Homo sapiens: one gene and its partners. The protein of the gene in region 1 purifies or fractionates together with the protein of each later gene. This does not show direct contact. Each region holds a gene or a part of one and is shown in the gene's direction. Other genes may lie near its edges.

What was found. The genes of interacting proteins can lie anywhere in the genome.
Region 2: the proteins of KIFBP (region 1) and KIF16B purify together in Homo sapiens (affinity purification with mass spectrometry; 2 studies listed by BioGRID and IntAct, with this or other methods). This does not show direct contact.
Region 3: the proteins of KIFBP (region 1) and KIF3A purify together in Homo sapiens (affinity purification with mass spectrometry; 3 studies listed by BioGRID and IntAct, with this or other methods). This does not show direct contact.

What each region holds. Positions count from the first base shown.
Region 1 is NC_000010.11:69,005,803-69,012,802, forward strand, and holds part of KIFBP (KIF-binding protein), read left to right. Parts: coding exon 1-113; intron 114-1,095; exon of another isoform or gene 1,096-1,949; intron 1,950-3,038; coding exon 3,039-3,123; intron 3,124-5,097; coding exon 5,098-5,213; intron 5,214-7,000. UniProt on the Homo sapiens protein: Activator of KIF1B plus-end-directed microtubule motor activity. Required for organization of axonal microtubules, and axonal outgrowth and maintenance during peripheral and central nervous system development.
Region 2 is NC_000020.11:16,271,586-16,276,476, reverse strand, and holds the end of KIF16B (kinesin-like protein KIF16B), read left to right. Parts: intron 1-3,065; coding exon 3,066-3,224; 3' UTR 3,225-4,373; downstream 4,374-4,891. UniProt on the Homo sapiens protein: Plus end-directed microtubule-dependent motor protein involved in endosome transport and receptor recycling and degradation.
Region 3 is NC_000005.10:132,692,529-132,699,574, reverse strand, and holds the end of KIF3A (kinesin-like protein KIF3A), read left to right. Parts: intron 1-279; coding exon 280-404; intron 405-2,892; coding exon 2,893-2,941; 3' UTR 2,942-6,944; downstream 6,945-7,046. UniProt on the Homo sapiens protein: Microtubule-based anterograde translocator for membranous organelles. Plus end-directed microtubule sliding activity in vitro. Plays a role in primary cilia formation. Plays a role in centriole cohesion and subdistal appendage organization and function.

The sequences.
Region 1 (7,000 bases):
AGGCTGCTCACTATTGCCATAGTACACTAAAACGCCAGCTTGAGCACAATGCCTACCATCCTATAGAGTGGGCTATCAATGCTGCTACCTTGTCACAGTTTTACATCAATAAGGTAAGCTTCTTGAAGTAGTTATCTAACAGAGTACCAATAGTGAGTATAAAAATAGAACCAGTAGTACCTTGAAAATACTATCTTTTAAAAACAGGTAGCTTGTATTTTATGATGTACAACTGAAGCCGAAAATGCAGCCCAGTTTGCCCGTGTACTAAAATTTTGTAGCTTTTTGTTGTATGAATTATTTTGAGTTTTAAAATACCGAGTTTTATCATTGTTTTACATGTTACCTAAGACCAATTCTTTTTTTAACATAGGCACGCTATCTCAACTCATTTTAGTGAGATATTACCTTAAATTGCAGATTTTACCTTGTAGATATAGCTTTATCTTTACGTAATGGTAATCTCATAACTCTGAGAATTTGACTGAGGAAGTTGACTGTTAAATGTGGGCTTTGATAAAAGCATGTGATGCATTTCAGTTATTTTTCAGAATTAACTCTGTAATAATTTTTTAATGTTGGAAATATGTCTGCTGAGTTCCAAAGTTCTAGGTCTTTATACCATACTTCTTTTGGATTGTTACACAGGGACAATGTTTTTGAGCTTCTTAGTTGTTTATCAGAATTTCTCATAAAAATTTAAAAAAGCATTGCTCACATCATGTTGGTGTACTCTTAATTGACCCATTTATTCCTTTAATCCTTGAGAGTTTTTAATGCTAAAATAATTTTACACCACCTTTTCTAACCAGATTTTCCTATTAATCCTTAATAAGACATCTCAGCAATATAAATTACTTTTATTTATATTTCGAATTCGCAAGCCTCTCTGAAATTTTGGTAGTTCTCTGCTTATCAGAGTTCCTTCTTTCATCTCTCTGGTAACCCGCTGCCTTATCCTTGGGCCTTTATCCTTTTTGAGCATTTCGTTAGCGTTGGTTCTGTAAATGCGCCCGATGATTAAAGTATTGTCCCACAGAATTTCATTCAGAAAAGCTATTAGCAGGAGAGAAAGGGCTGTGGTGACTGCAGCATCGCTTCTAGGACTTTGGTCTAAGATCAAGTGTGTAAGTAACGCTACTGCATATATCAGAGCATTCAGTTAACTAATTCTCATGAATCCATTTCATTGTCCTCATCCAAAGTGTTATCCAGTGCCTCCGCTTGTGACATCTTTTTTACAGCTGTTGGAGGCCCCTTATTCATTCTGTTTAGCAACTTTAAAATTACATATTCACTGTGACTTTAATTTATACTTAAAACTCCATGGAAATTGGCAGTACTAAGATATCTAGATATTAAAGTGTGATTAAAATTTAAAGTTGTTAAGCATTACTTATGTGGAGCATGCAGTAATTTTCATGAGACCTCCCACACCCTGCACTTTTATTTTTTTACCAAAATCTTTTTTAAGTTTTTGTTAAAACCAACTAAGTCGTATTGCAAAAAGAGGGATTTGAACCATGTTTTTAAAAATGCAATTGTCATTTATATCATTGTCATCTTCATCTGATTCCAGTGATGAGGTTTTGCTACTTGGTGAATCCCTACCTGGCAGCTGCTAAAGTCCCACATTTACCAGCCACCTAGAGGGCATAAGACACTCACTGTTCTAGCAGTGGTTGCTCACAGGGAGCCAATCTGGACAAAGCTGAAATGACGATAAATGTTAAGGGATTGGATTATAGAGAGATAATTAAAGTTTCATTATATAAACTCTAACTTTCTTTTGGCTTTTAAGATTTAACACATTTTTATCTATAGATGTTGCTGGGCTAATACTACACGTGTCCAGCTATTCTCAAGATGGCTTCTGAATTTGCCATAATGGAAAGATACATTTAATGCTGCAATTTTAAAGTTATAGCCAACCATTTAAAGCCTTTCAGGTATTACTAATATTAAGTAGACATTCTATTTAATGAGGGTGGCTTCCAACTAAAAGTTGGACTTTAACTTTGAACTTCTGCTGGGTGGTCCTTTGACTTACATGACAAATACAAAATGTTTCTATTAACAAGGAGATCTTCTCTAATTGTTTGAGAAGTTTGCCATGCCCGGAATTGAATTATGAAGTCTTCAAGAGTGTTGGTAAAGCAGTTCCATAAGGTTCATCTGTAGAAGTCTGTTGACTTTAAAACTTGGTGGGAAGCCTTATTGTATGTAAAGTTTAAAGATTTTAGAACACAGGAATATCTTCTTACCTGAGTTTATCCTATTTGCCTTTGTATAGTAGGATGTAAAGGGGCTCTCTAAACCTAATAAAAATTAAATCCTCAGGCTGGGCAAGGTGGCTTACATCTATAACCCCAGCACCCTGGGAGGCCAAGGTGGGAGCATTGCTTCAGGCCAGGAGTTGGAGACCTGTTTAGGCAACATAGAGAAACCCCAGAATTAGTCAGGCTTGGAGGCTAAAGGTGGGAGGATCCCTTAAGACCAGGAGGTTGAGGCTGCAGTGAACTATGATTGTGCCACTGCACTCCAGCCTTGGGCCAGAGTGAGACCCCTGTCTCGTAAAAAAAAAAAAAAATATATATATATATATATATATATATATTCAGTCTTCTGACACAATGTAAATAGTCTAAGAATTTATTGTGCATGGGATTTTGGCTACTTAGACTGAACCTAAAGGAGTTTTTGAGACAGTTTAAGTCTAGGATGACAGCCATTCCTGTATATCTATTGATTGTATAAGGAGAGCTAACTTTCAGTTGGCAGTTGTCTTTCAATCCGAGTGGATTATTATTAAGAGTTTGGGGGCATTAATATTTTAACCTTTGAGGTTACATTTTAACCAGATAATATGATAATATATCTTTTGTACCTTCTGAATGATCTGCAACTCTACAGGGCCTCCTTTGTAGTATTTTTATCTGATTTTATACCTTTTCCCATATTAAAAGAAATTATGCAAGTATCAGTTGCAAATAAAGCTGTGTGATAGTTGCATTCACTGTTGTTTATTTCCCCAATAGCTATGCTTTATGGAGGCCAGGCACTGTTTATCAGCTGCTAATGTCATTTTTGGTCAAACTGGAAAGATCTCAGCCACAGAAGACAGTAAGTTTACCTTTGCATGTTTTACATAGCTTTTAAAAAAAGTTTTATTTTGAAATTATTTTAAACTTTTGAAAAGTTGCAAGAACAGAAGAGCTATCATATGCCCTTCTAAATGCACCAATTTTTAGTATTTTCCTCGCTTGGAATCAAATTTTATTTTTCTCTCTGAACCATTGGAGAGAAGGTTACATACATTAGGCTCTTTTACCCTTTCATACTTTAGTATATATTTCCTAAGAAGAATATTTTCTTACATAATCATAGATCATTTATCAAATTCAAGAAATGTAACATTGGCCAGGCATGGTGGCCCACGCCTGTAATGCTAGATTTTGGGAGGCCAAGATGGGAGGGGCCAGGAGTTCAAGACAAGCCTGATCAACATAGTGAGACCCCATCTCTATGTTTTTAAAGAAATTAAAAAAAAAAAAGTAACATTGATACAATTCTTTTATCTACACTGCATATTTCTATTTCATCAGTTGTTGCCATAATATTCCTTCTAGCATTTGTTTGCCAGTACTGGATTATACAGTTCAAGATTGCATAATGCATTCAGTTGTCACATCTCTTCAGGCATTTTTCGTCTGGAATTGTTCCTCAGCCTTTCTTTCCCTTTCATCACTTAATATTAAGAATATAGGCCAGTTATTTCATAGAATTACTGCCAGCTGGGGTTTGTGTGATGTTTCCTTATGCCATGATTCAGATGATATATTTTTGGTTGGAATACTACATGCATAAGCGATGTTGCCAAATACCCATCTTTTTAAGTATAGTGTTTCCTTTAGTCTTAGAAAATCACAGTTAACATGTGTCTTTGAGTCATTTAACAGGTTTTTTAATAAGTTCATCATTTTCTTTAAAAATAGTTTATTTTTAAAAATAGTTTGATTCTATTGCTCACTGTTGAACAGTTTCCAACCTTCTTACGATGTTTTAGATTTTGAAACATCATGTCTTCCTTACAAATGGACATTCTAATTGTGGATCTGAAAAATGCAGAGACTCTTAAGAGCTAAAGGAATGTACATTATCAAAGTAAATAGTTGCTTTCTCCCCTAATATATTAACTACATTAATTATAGATTAGTTGAAGTCTAAGAGGCACTTGTCTCAAAAAATGAATAAAAACTAAATTGCTGAGATATTATTTAATAATTCACTTTATTTAAAGTAATATCGTGAGATATTATTTTGTTTTTACTCTTCATAATAGCTGAAAAAATGACAGTGACCAGTGTTTTCAAAATGTTCTTATTGAGCATTCTCATATATTGTTGGTTGGCATATTTGTTGAAAATAATTTGGCTGTATGTTGTGAATTATTTAAAATTGTGTAAACTCTTTTACTCAGTAAATTCCACTTCTAGGAATCTGCCCTAAGGAAGAAATCCAAAATCCAGACAGATTTTTGCACAATTATACTCATGTTTCAAGTTTAAAAAAAATGTGTGTATGTGTATAAACTTTACAAAGCTTTGTGTTGACAGCTGACTTTGTAGATTACAGCAAGAAAGCTGCTCTGCTATGTATGACACTCTGACCCAGAAGCAGGTCATCTGAATAGTTTAGCACCAGGTTCTCCACAACCATCTGTTGTGTGACATAGACGTTTTTGTGATAGTAAAGAATTGGAAACAACAAATTCCAGGTTAGAATTAGAAGAATGGTTAAATAATAGAATATCTATTTAATTGTATATAATGGTGTACTTAAAAATGAAGCTAAGAGTTGATAATGATATGAGTAAAGTGTTTGTGGTGCGAGAAAGAAATATGCAAAAATAATAGTGAGTGCTTCTGGGTAGTAGGATTTGGGGGGGGATCTTTCTTCCCTTTTCCCCAAGCCCCCTGCTTCAGTAAAGATCTGTTACTTTTATAGTCAGGAAAAAGTGATATTAAAAAAATTACAGTACCCAATGAAAATTACAGTTGTGACCATTAACTTAAACAAATCACATGTATATTTTAGCTCCTGAAGCTGAAGGAGAAGTGCCAGAGCTTTATCATCAAAGAAAGGGGGAAATAGCAAGGTGCTGGATCAAATACTGTTTGACTCTCATGCAGAATGCCCAACTCTCCATGCAGGTAATGCAGTCAGAAGCTGCCTTTTTCTTTCTTAAATGAGGAAATTGTAAGTAAAAACTCATAGTGGGGATTGTGCTCATTGGGGTCACATTGTGTTTAATATGAAAGGTGTGTAGAATGTTTTCGTAAATATTTCTTTCTTGGTTTTAAATCGTATTCTTCGAATTGCTTGAATCCGGGAGGCAGAGGCTGCGTGAGCCGAGATTGGACCACTGCACTCCAGCCTGGGCAACAGAGCGAGACTCCATCTCTAAATAAATAAATAAATAAAATAAATCTTACTCATCATTCAAGGCCTATCTTAAATACTACCTCTTCCTTGAAGACTTTTCTTTGGTTAGAATATAAGCTTCTTGAGAGCTGGGAACGATATCATATTCTTTTTTTTTTTTTTTTTAGACAGGCTCTCGCTCTGTTTCCCAGGCTGGAGTGTGGTGGCGTGATCATGGGTCACTGCAACCTTGGTCTCCCCGGCTCATGCAGTCCTCCCACCTCATCCTTGGAGTACAGGCGTGTGCCACCATATCCAGTTAATTTTTAAATTATTTTGTAGAGACTGGCTCTCACTGTGTTGCCAAGGCTGGTCTTGAACTCCTGGGCTCAAGTGATCTTCCTGCCTTGGCCTCCCAAAGTGCTGGGATTACAGGTGTGAGCCACTGTGCCTAATCTTTTTTTTTTTTTTTTTTTTTTTTTTTTTGAGACGGAGTTTTGCTCTGTCGCCCGTGCTGGAGTGCAGTGGTGTGATCGCAGCTGCAACCTCTGCTTCCTGGGTTCAAAGGATTCTCCTGCCTCAGCCTCCTGAGTAGCTGGGATTACAGGTGCCTGCCACCATGCCTGGCTAATTTTTGTCTTTTTAGTGTAGATGGGGTTTCACCATTTTGGCCAAGCTGGTCTCGAACTCCTGACCTCAAGTGATCCATCCATCTCGGCCTCCCAAAGTGCTGGGATTACAGGTGTGAGCAACCACACCTGGCCAAGCCCTTACTAATCTTTATATACTTCCCAGTGTTATCTTACACACAGCATGGACTTGATAAAATCTAAAAGGGTAGACTTTTAAGAAATAGCTCATGTAATAGTTCAAAAATAGAAGCAGAACTGATGGCAGTGAAGAGCATGGACTTGAAATACACTAGGTAGGTATGAACTCCAGCTCTGCCGCTTCGTAGCTATGTCTTTGTGGCAATTTACTTAATATATTTTTGCCTCTATTTCCTCACAAGTAAGTTGGAGATAATAGTACTTAATACTGTTGTTATGGGAGTTAAGTCAGTATATATTAAGGCCTCGGAAAAGTGCCTGAGACATACTAAGTCCTTAATAAATGTTAACTACCATCATCATTATTAATTTATGCCCAATCCTAGTTTCTAAGCACTAGGGAGGATAATAAAATTAATCATTTAGATGCAATATACTAAGTGTAGATACATAGGAAGATTTCCTGGGGGATTCATTGTGCTTTTATTTTTTTATATTGTGTATTAAAGTATGATAATTTTTTTTTTTTACATGGGACTCTGCTTGATAAAAGTATAATAATCTTTAGTGGTTGTATTAGTCTGTTCTCACACTGCTATAAAGAACTACTTGAGGCCAGGTACAGCGCCTCATGCCTATAATCCCAGCACTTTGGGAGGCCAAGGTGGGTGGATCACTTGAGCCCATGAGTTTGAGACCAGCCTAGACAACATGTTGAAACCCTGTCTCTACCAAAAATACAAAAAATTAGCCAGGCATGGTGGTGTGCACCTATAGTCCCAGCTACTGGGGAGGCTGAGGCAGGA
Region 2 (4,891 bases), on another chromosome or scaffold:
AGAAAACTCTTCTGTAATGTTTAGAATTAGTCAAATCAGATCATTCTATCTGGAGTTTTTGTCAAACAACACTAATGAGTTTATTTAAAGAAAAAGACATTACCTGACAGTTGTATTGTTCTCTTCTTATGGTGGTGCTCTTGAAGGGAGGTGTCTCAAATACTTCCTCTTTTCCTTTCATTTATATTTTTAACTTTTACTTCTCTTCTTATTATACCCTTTAGGCTTTATTGGCCCTTTATAGGGACCCTACTTTGTGTACTAATTATGACAAATGCTGATATAACATCTGCTCCCAGATTTAAATTGCCTTCCAGTCTGTCAGAGTTCATCTTGAAGTCAGCTTTGCTGTAAACATCAGCCTGCCTGTTAATGCAGCCTGTGGGAGACCTGAAGCCGGAGCCCACAGGAGCTACCTGAGATGAGGCCTGTGCAGCGAGCCTTGCTCTATCATGCATTAAACTGTGAAAGAGCAGTGGCTCCATGCACAAGTCAGCAAGCTCTGCATCTCCCGTTTTCCAAATCATCTCACCCTTGATCTTCCCAGAACAATCAGTTGTGCACATGCATTGCACCGCGAGCATTGGCTGGTTGAGTGTAGTCTACGATATATACTGGTGACCCTGTTTGATGCAATTCAAGTCCCTTTAAAGTTGATATTCTCAGGGTCCCTTCCCGCAGAAAAGTGGAAGTCAGGTCTCTCTTTGCCCCTCTGATAAAAATAATTACTAAGATTAAGATCTTCACTTTTCAGCAGTTGATTTTCATAACTTCTTACCAATACCTAATTTCAATTTCAGGATCGTTTCTTGAGAGGGTACCATGAGACCAGTAAGTTAGGGATATGGAACAAGAAAAAACATCTTGAGTTGAGAATACTTGCTTTCAAGTCTTCTCTCTAGATTACTAGCCTTGCTCACCTCTCCTGGCAATAGCTTCCTTACCAGGAAATGGGTAATACCAGAAGAAGATGTGATTCCAGGCCAAGTGTAAGGATAACATAAAGTTAGGTGCCTTAGGAAACTTTTGAAGGGGATGCAAATATTTATCTTGATTTAATGGTGGTTTCACATGGGTCAGCACTCATGAAGTTATACATTTAAAGAATGTACAGTTTATCTGGCCGGGCGCAGTGGCTCACACCTGTAATCCCAATACTTTGGGAGGCCAAGGGGGGTGGATCATTTGAGGTCAGGCATTTGAGACCAGCCTGGCCAACATGGTGAAACCCCGTCTCTACTAAAAATACAAAAAAATTAGCTGGGCATGGTGGCACATGCCTGTAGTCCCAGCTACTCAGGAGGCTGAGGCAGGAGAATTGCTTGAACCCAGGAGACAGAGGTTGTGGTGAGCTGAGATCGCGCCACTGCACTGCAGCCTGGGAGACAGAGCAAGACTCCGTCTCAAAAAAAAAAAAAAAAGTACAATTTATCATGCACCAGTTTTACTTCCATTAAGTGTAAAACATTGGATGTTAGAAGATTTTTAGAAACTAAGTTATTTTACAAGTGTTGTTGTTAGTAGTCCTCATTAATATTTTGAAGGAGAATTAACAAATTCTCGTTGAGTAGAATGTCTTCTTTCAGAAGGAAATTTCAGGTTGGCAATTCATAGAGGTAGCTAAATTCTACTTTCTCTTCTCAACTGTGGCATCGTCGACATTTGGGCCAGATAATTCTTTGTCCTGTGCTTTGGCATCCCTGGCCAGCATCCACCAGGTGCACTGCCTGTGCACCCCTATGTGACACTCAAAACTGCCACCAAACACTGCTGAACACTCTATGGGGCAGAACTGCCTCTTGTTGGGAACTACTGCTCCAGGCTTAGGCCATGTTGCTTTCACAAATTTTTTGTTGTTACTCAGAGTCCAGAATTATTATGTGTAATTCCTAAGACTGTGCCAGGGTTGTTTGGGTTTTTTAAGCACACTGAGACAATAATAAAGGTTTGGGTCTAACCCCTTCCCTCCAGCCCATTTTCTGTTACAGATGAGATTTGCCTGGCCTAAAATATATTAACTATTCTTGTGTGCCCTCTTTTCCTTGAACACATCCCTCCAGCTCCCACATCTGATTTTATCCCCAGTTCCCAGAGCCTAGTCTCACATATGCTTTGCTTTCTCAGTGCCAAAAACGGCAGATAATGTTGCAACAAACATGCAGCAGGGGTCTGGAGCAAGTAATTGTAGTAAGGATTCCTTTTTGTTGATGATTATAGGACATGCAAAAAGATCTGTAAATATCAGTACTTGGAACTGACCCTCTTGTCCTCAGTATTGCTTTCCCTTTATTTTATAAGAAGGATTCAAAACAGATACTGACTGTGCAATTTTAAAATACCAGTAAGCAGCACATTTAACCTTGTACAGATGGCCGGCCTTTTTTTTTTGTTTTTTTTTTTTAATCATCTTTCTATTTAATGAGTAACTGGGAGCGGGGAGGAAATGACTTTTTTAAATAAGAGATTAACTAGTGACACTGTGGCTGAGAGGCAGATCCCCTGTGCCTGGCACCCTTGACATTTTCCTAGGCATTGTCTGCTGTAGATCTGAGACAGTGCTGCCCAGAATCAGTGCTGAGCCAAAGATATTTCTTCTGTGCATATGTATTTTGTGACTCCGTCTTCTCTGGTTGGTCTGATGATAGGTGGGACAGTGGAGGGCATTCCTCACGTGCTGGTTTTAATGACAATGATAGCACTTTCCAGGTGGGTGGGAAGTTGTTTCTGGAAATTTTTTCTCTTCTTGACACCATCCAACAGTACCTTGACCGTATTCTGATTGATTGATTGATTGATTGATTGATTGATTGATTGAGACAGGGTCTTGCTTTATCACCCAGGCAGGAGTGCAGTGGCACCATCACAGCTCACTGCAGCCTCTACCTCCTGGGCTCAAGTGATCCTCCTGCCTCAGTGCACCACCCTGTCCAGCTAATTTCTTTATTTTTTGTAGAGATGAGGTTTCTCCATGTTGCCTGGACTGGTCTCAAACTCCTGAGCTCAAGCGATCCCACCCGCCTTGACCTCCCAATTGACCATGTTCTTAACTCTTGTCTCTTCCACAGAAATACCTCAGGGACTTTTTCAGCGTGATGCTCCAGTCCGCAACATCTCCCCTCCACATCAACAAAGTGGGACTGACTCTCTCGAAACATACCATTTGTGAGTTTTCACCATTCTTCAAGAAAGGAGTCTTTGACTACAGCAGCCACGGGACGGGGTAGAGCCAGGGGTGATGGAGGAACCACCACAGCAGTGCCTTCTCGTCGAAGCGGGCTCCGATGCAGGGCAGCTCCCCCATGCGAGGATCCGGGTCTGCCTCCTCCTGCTGAAGACAGACATGCAGCAGCGGGCCCGGGCCACCTCACGTTTCCATACCTAGTGCCTGAGTTTGGGGATGGGATGCTCTGCCTGCTGATGTGGCCCTGACAGGCAGCCGTTACCGTTCCATTGCGGTTGAACGTGGCCTTTTCCCACAGTGCTTCCTTCTCACTGCGCAGCAAAGTTCGTCCCCTGTGGCAAGATAGATGTGGTTGGGCCATCGTGGGTTCCCTGAGCCCAGCCAGCCTGGGACCTCCCAAAGTGGGTGGCTTACCAGACCACCCTTAAATGACTTTCATCTGGTTTCCTCTTTCACCAAAATATACTCGTATTTTTTATATTTCTTCCATGTGGCTGGCTATATTCCAAGAAAAGCATTTTAAATTATTTCATTGTATTTTTTTCTTTTTTTCCCTCATTTGAATCAGAACTTTTATATAAAACCCAAACACTGATGTTTACACAGAATTTCATATTCTGCAAAAGGGATTTTTTGATCCAATCATGACTGTAGTCTTCCATGCTTGACAAATTGGATGTAGACAACATTACTTAAAACTTCTATAAATCCCTACAATTAGGATATTTATTTAACCTTGAATATTCAAGAACATTCTCCCAAATCTAAATGGCTACTGTGCATTCTTGAGCTTTTTCTGCTAAGCACAAAATGAACGCAAAGCTAAATGCATATTTTTAAGTATTATTCACATTTTTTGTTACAGAATCTATTGGATCTTTGGCTGGAAAACTAGAATTTATAGCAGTTTATTAATGATACCTTAAATTACTCAGGACTTAATGTAGCATTGCACTTCTGTGTACAGTAAAACTGCTTTGTTTTACTAAAGAGAAAAATGTGAGTGGAAAAAATATGTATGTGGTATATACTCAAATGTATATAATTCTATCTATAGATTTATATATGTATACATTCTGTACAGTAGTTCCATCAAAATATGTAATAATTCACACCAATTTTATTAAATGTATTTGCTTTTTCAAAATTTAAATTGAGCTGCTATCAATATTAAATGAAGTTATGGCATCTACCCTGTAGCTCAGCTTATTTTAAGTCTGTAACATGATCATTCATACTAGTCTGTTTAAACATTGATCTAATGTTCTTGGAAATATGCATAATGTATAACTCAGCATTTGTGTTGCAGAAGATGCAGTGATAGTAATGATTGAAGTCGTAAATGAATGGTTAACAGAACATGTTTGCATTCCATCTTCTAGAGAATGCCTTCACAACAAAGTTCTCCAACCTGAAAAATATGCATAAACGTGCAATTATCCCTATAAGGAGGAAAACTAGTATTGCACTAATTAAATATCATAGTATAGTGTGAAAAAAAATGAGGACATTTTTGCTGCAGAAGGACCTGCTTTTGTCTGCAGTTGTGATTACAGGAATAGGTTTAGGAGCAATTACTACCAGAGAATTTCAAACTAGAGATTAAGGGATAAGAGCTGGGTAGATAATAATTAACCATAGGTCATTTATTTAAGAGGAGTCTTAAGCCCTAAAGATGGTCCCTCATTTGCTGAGTAAACTAAGTGGTTT
Region 3 (7,046 bases), on another chromosome or scaffold:
AAAAAAAAAAAAAAGAAGAAGAAGAGGGGGCAGCTTTAAGAAAAACAGCAACAGTTTTTATGTCCAAGGAAATTTATAGTGTGTCAGGGCTTCTTACTCACCAACCTTTATTAAGTACATTTTAGATACTGGGATTAGAAGATGATGTCATTAGACATTTCTTTGGTTTTAGCTTCTGTGGGTTTGATCAAGGAGTTTATTCAGTATTTTAAATCTTCCCCCAAATCTGGCTTTAACTCTTTGCCTTAAGAGTGCTTTGTGTTTGTTTCTTTTACTTAGCCCTTTGAGGTGGACCTTTCTCACGTGTATCTTGCCTATACTGAGGAGAGTCTGCGTCAGTCTTTGATGAAACTAGAAAGACCACGAACTTCAAAGGGGAAAGCAAGGCCAAAGACAGGGAGAAGGTAAGGACTGTCCTTGAATCTGGTAAAACGAAGGCATTGAGGTATTCTAATTAGATACATGTACAGGAAGTTAAAATTTATTTAGTTAAAACATGATACATATTTTGGCTGATTTATTAAAAATCAAATTCCTGGCTGGGCACAGTGGCTCACGCCTGTAATCCCAGCATTTTGGGAGGCCGAGGCAGGTGGATCATTTGAGGTCAGGAGTTTGAGACCAGCCTGGCTAACATAGTGAAACGCTGTCTCTACTAAAAATACAAAAGTTAACCAGGCATGGTGGCGCATGCCTGTAATCCCAGCTACTGGGGAGGCTGAGGCATGAGAATCGCTTGAACCCAGGAGCCGGAGGTTGCAGTTAGCCGAGATCATGAGATCATGCCACTGAACTTCAGCCTGGGTGACAGAGCAAGACTTGGTCTCAAAAAAAAAAAAAAAAAATCAAATTCCTTATGTATTAGAATTTGAGTAAATAAAATCTGGCCAAAGAATTAAGGTCTTCCAACTTCTTAGGCTTCTGAGTAATAGAATTTATTTTTAATTCACTCTGTTATTTCCAAATGTATAATGGGTTTAATTCCTTAATTCTTAGACTAATTCTTCTTATGAAATGCTAATTAATTTGCCTGTTTGGTCTCCCAAGGTATTGTATTCAGCTGGTTAGTTTTTCTGTCAGGTGCCCCAAGAACCTTGATTTCCTCAGTCACCAGCTAAGGAGAACTTCCTTGGACATTTCCCCCTCTCCTTTGGGCACTGGTTTTGACTGTTGGGTAGTCTGCGTGTATCATCACATAAGCTCAGGGAAATCGGGATATGGGAGTCCTGGGCTGGAGCTTATTTTTTTTTCCTTTCCCTTTCCTACATCAAGGACTGTTCAGTTTATTTAAGCTGATTTTAAGACTCTGGGGCTCCTAAAATGTAGGAAATAATAAGCTGCTTTTTTCCCTACTTTGAGTGCATGGACTTTCAAGTTACATGTGGGATGAAGTTGTACGGTTTTGATATCTTTGTGTTACATAATCTCATAGACATGACTTAACACTTATAAATTTGGGATGGTTGAACTCAGGGTTGGGCAAACAGTTGAATATTAAAAATGTACAAATTTTTACATTCTTTAGCATTTAGGTGAGGGGTTAAAAACTTTCCTATACCAACACATGCCAAGCATATTGTAGTGAAGCAAATCAGTTCTAAGAAACATGAGTCCCTTTAGATGTATCTTTTTTTCCATTTTTAATAAAATGACAGTGCAAGTGTGATGATAAATGGTAAGACATTTGTCCCCAGCGTAGGAGAAAAATTGGCAGTGGTGAGCAGTCCTGTCTAAAGTGAGTGGCTGCTATTCTCTTCCTAGTTATCTATGGAAATAGAGGGCTCATTGTTTCTGGATCTTCTGTTTTCTTTTCTTTTCTTTTTTTTGAGATGGAGTCTCACTCTGTTGCCCAGGCTGGAGTGCCCTGAGTAGCTGGGATTACTGGCACCTGCCACCATGCCCAGTTAATTTTAGTATTTTTACTAGAGATGGGGTTTTGCCCTGTTGGCCAGGCTGGTCTCGAACCCCTGACTTCAGGTGATCTGCCCACCTCAGCCTCCCAGAGTGTTATGATTACAGGCATGAGCCACCGTGCCTGGCCTGGATCTTCTCTTTTCTAAGGAAAAGCCAGAAATTCGAATTATTTACTTGAGATCTGTCAATTTTACTTTTTTTTTTTTTAACTATATGGACCCTAAAGCAAATGAATAAATAATATGATATTTGAATACGTTTTCCAGAACATCCATTTTAAGATACGTCATTTTTTTAGTTTAACATTAAAAAAATCGTGTGGCCCAACATTATATGAGCCAAACTCACCATCTCTGTATACTGGAATTGGCCTGCTATAACCATGGAAACCCTAAGAAAATGGTAGCCATAAACATGGACAAATACATGCATTAAATGGTTTATTGATGCTATGTTACATTATATGATATGTTCAATGTGATGTTCCTTGTTAGAAACACATAGTTAGATGGGCTAGGCAAAATTGCAATAAATATAATACATTAATGTAGCATTTCCATAAGTCCCTACATATGCATCAGGTATTGCCTGAGATGATTTGTTTCTGATTTCCTCTGAATCCACTTGCACCTTTTGAGTACCTCAGAAGAGATAATCAGGAAGTTCAAATCTGGCAAGCATGCAGCTCACTTGGCCTGGCCACATGACCTAGTCTAGTCTTGGAAATTATCACCTGTCCTATCCTTCACTATCTGGCATAATGGGGTGGGCTGCCATCCTCTTGCATTTACTTTAAGTTAGCTTCCCGTAGCCTGAAAAGGCGAGCATTAATTGAACACTTACCATGGTCAAACGTGTCAAATTTTGGCTTGTTTCCAGACTATACAGGCCACCCCATAGTTTCTATATAATGTTAAATGTTTGCATTTCAGTCTTTTAGGAAAGCATTCATGATTGCTTTTTTTCTTCTCCAAACAGAAAGCGTTCTGCAAAGCCTGAAACTGTAATTGACTCTTTACTGCAGTAAATGTTACAGACTTAAAGTCACAATAAAAATTAGTGATATTCTCATGCCTGGACAAAATCTTTAATTAAAACAGTGAAGACTTCTCTATAATTTCAATTAATGGAAGTTGTAGATCAATGAATAAGACTGGAAATAATAATTTGCTTAAGAACTTTTAGTCTACATATATTAATATAACATTAAAATTGTACAACTGGTGATTGTTCAAATTGTTGTACTACTACTCTTCAATTGTACTGTGCAGGGAAGTTGGGGGAACAGTTCATACTATAGAGAGTTACAGTTTAGATGTATGTGTAAATCGATTAGCTATTTATCCAACTACTGTATATTTAGGTAACTAGAATTTCAAAATAGAAAAAAAAAAACTGTGTCCTGTTTTGCACATAGAAAGAAGCAGATCAGATTGTCCTATGTTGCGCTGTTATATATGAATGTTTGGACTGTACATCTAAAGAATGATTCCGTCCTAACACCCACCCAGCCTGTTTGAACACATTCTAATTGTCTAACATTTGTTGCATTTTAAGTATGAGATGACTGATCTTATGAATGTTTTGTAGAAAATGTTATAATTTAACAGTCTTTGCGAGTATACATGTTTTTTAACAAGTTGAAAATGTTTCATCTGAACCTTTCCTAACTTTTTTTTGCCAGTTTGAGTTCAAATCAAATACACCTTAAGTTCTGGTTTCATGTTCTCTTGAAACATTGAATTGTACGTAAATATAAAGGATCTACTGTTGCGGAAAATTAAGAAGCTAAATACTGCTCAGTTATCTTTGCCTGCGTGTATATTTTTAAAAATTCACTCTGAAGTGTTATGGATGCTTTTCTTTGAGTTCTAAATTTTGGTGGGAATTACTTTATGTCTCCCAGTTAAGAAGAGTCTCCATTTTCCAGAAAATACAGCTAAGCAAGAAAAATATCTTTTAAATACTTTGCCTTTAAAACACTTTTTTATTTTGTTTTTCTATTTTAAAAATAAAATATTATTTTCTGAATTTCTTCTATTGGGTAATCCAGTTAGACCATATTCCTCTACAAATAAAAACTATGTTGATTTCATAGTAAAGTAAGTTGTAATAGAGATAATTATTTTTTTCTGTTGTTAGCTGCTTATGAAACTTTTATTGTATTTTTTTAAAGTTATGCTACTCCTGGCCGGGCATGGTGGCTCACGCCTGTAATCCCAGCACTTTGGGAGGCCGAGGCACGTGGATCACTTGATGTCAGGAGTTCGAGACCAGCCTGGCTAACATGGTGAAACCCTGTCTCCAGTACAAATACAATAATTAGCTGGGTGTGGTGGCGCACACCTGTAATCCCAGCTACTTGGGAGGCTGAGGCAGGAGAATCACTTGAACCTGGGAGGCGGAGGTTGCAGTGAGCTGAGATGGCATCACTGCACTCCAGCCTGGGTGACAGGGTGACACTCCACCTCAAAAAATAAAAATAAAATAAAAATAAAGTTATGCTACTCCTAAACCACTTAATATATGTTTTGTGGTTTTCAAAATTATGTAATCAGCCCTGAAACACATTGGTTGAAAATATTTTGAGACTTTATAAGTTAGTATTTATTAAATTAATATTATTTTAATAAGTTTTGTTAAATCCTAGTTTAAATGACAAAGCTGTGTATAGAGTAGGGGTGAGTGAAGGTGGAGTACTCTTGAGGTGGCGATAAAAATGTACCCATAAATTTAAAGTCCATTCTGTAATTGGAATACTGAATGTCCTGTGTGTGGTGAACATTTTCTAGGTGATTAGAATTGCATTTCACTGGCTGCATTTGTTTGTGGTATGTAAGATAGCTAGAAATTTATTACTTAACTCTGTGGGGCATTGTTTAGATACTGTGAAGAGTTGAGGTAAATATGTGTCTTGTAAAAGCTTTGTGTGATCAGAATATTTTGGTAATTATAAAATGTTTTTGATGATACACATTTAACTCTGTTAGTAATTACTCTAAAGAAATCTTAATTTTACCAGTTTAAAAAAAACGCTTCTTTTTAAAAGTTCATGTTTCTAACCTTTAACAATTCAGTTAATAGGAAAGGAGTAACTTTTAAATCAAGCTTTAAAACATGGAAATTTAAGCCAGTATGTTAGATATTTTTTCTATCCCACCCTACCATGATAATAAAAATAAATCTATAAAAAGTCAAAATAAAAAGCCGATCTATAAAAAGTCAATTGAGAAGTTCTAAAAGCAGGCTACTATAGCAGGGGTGTTTGTTTTTTGTTTGGAGACGGAGTCTGGCTCTATTACCTAGGCTGGAGTGCAGTGGGACAATCTCGGCTCACTGTAACCTCTGTCTCTTCAGCCTCCTGAGTTGCTGGAACTACAGCTGTATGCCATCATGCTCGGCTAATTTTTGTATTTTTTTGTAGAGATGGGGTTTTGCCATGTTGCCCGGGCCTGTCTTGAACTCCTAGAGCTTAAGTGATCCACCCGCCTCAGGCTCCCGAAGTGCTGGGATTACAGGCATGATTATAGGCCTGAGCCACCACACCCCGCCTACTATAGCAGTTTTTTAAAAAAAGCATTATGTTAAAACTGATTATACCAGATGGACATTAAATATCCATCTCAGAAATACCAAAATTTGATACATAAGCCTGGCCTGAATATCTTTTTTTTTTTTTTGAGACGGAGTCTTACTCTGTCGCCCAGGCTGGAGTGCAGTGGCGCGATCTCGGCTCACTGCAACCTCTGCCTCCTGGGTTCAAGGGATTCTCCTGCCTCAGCCTCTTGAGTAGCTGGGATTACAGGTTTGCGCCACCACACCCAGCTAATTTTTGTATTTTTTTTTTAGTAGAGACCGGGTTTCACCATGTTGGCCAGGCTGGTCTCACCTGACTTTGTGATCCGCCCGCCTCAGCCTCCCAAAGTGCTGGGATTACAGGTGTGAGCCACCACGCCTGGCCTCAAGCCTGGTCTGAATATCTATATGCAAATATGGGACACTGACTTCAGAGCTATTCATTTAGCTCCAGTCATAGCAATTCTGTAGTTTCCTCACATTTACTGTGTCTTTGTCCACAAATGAAATATGTTGTAAGGTCAGTGTTAATTTCGTGAGACGATATAGATGAACACACTTGCTCATTTTTTGAAATAAATATGCAGATTTAAAATGAGTGGCACATATATATAAATAGGTTATTGAATGGGTATTCTCTTTTCCCTTTAATTTAAAAAGTGATATTTATTTATTAAAAGGAGCATTGGTAGAATTATTGGTTTATAGTATCTTCTTTAATAATCCTTACAATTACATATACTAATAGGATGTTAAAATTATCATCGTGTTTCCTATTTGTGTTTAGATTCTTATAAAGCATGAGATGAGTAATCAAGGGAAGGGTCGCATCTCCATGTTTGCCCCATGAATAGAATCCATTTGACAAGCCATTTCATTTCCTTTCTGGAGAAAGGGAGTTGTTTTTTTTTTCTTTTTACAGCAAAAATTTAAGGTTTTATTGGGGGAGGGGGTGGTGCTACTTCCTCTGTAACATGTTTTTAAAACTATGATTATGGTTTTTGGTTGTTTTTTGTTTTGTTTGTTTCCTTTTAGTCTGTTTTTAATATCCTTCCCCTTAACTCTTAAGGAAAGTCTTCTTTCCTACAGGGCTGTGAATTAAGGAATGGGTAGCGTTTACATTTAAGTACACCAATGTCTGCCCAATTTCCTAATGTATACATTTGTTTTATTTTAAATTATTTTTTGTTCTTAAAAATACTAGAAGAAAACATAGATGTTTCTAGTGCCTTTGAACTTATACTGTAGTCTGACTAATTTAATGAATAACTTCAGTAGCATTACTATAATACTGTATGCTGGCCAAAATTACAAATTACAGTTTGTTGCATCAGTTTCAAAAGCCATGCTTTCATTGTATTTTATGTATAAATTGTATTTGTTCAAGTTGTATATATTGGTATTGTATGTATACATGCAGCATGGTTAAATAAGAATAAAAATCTTTTACCTAATGCCTGTAGTAGTGGTCTGCTGCTTTTCTCAACTATCTTTGTGGTTACTTCCACCCTGATATTAATGAGCAGGTTCTTTGTGCTTGGCATCTCAATTTGTGG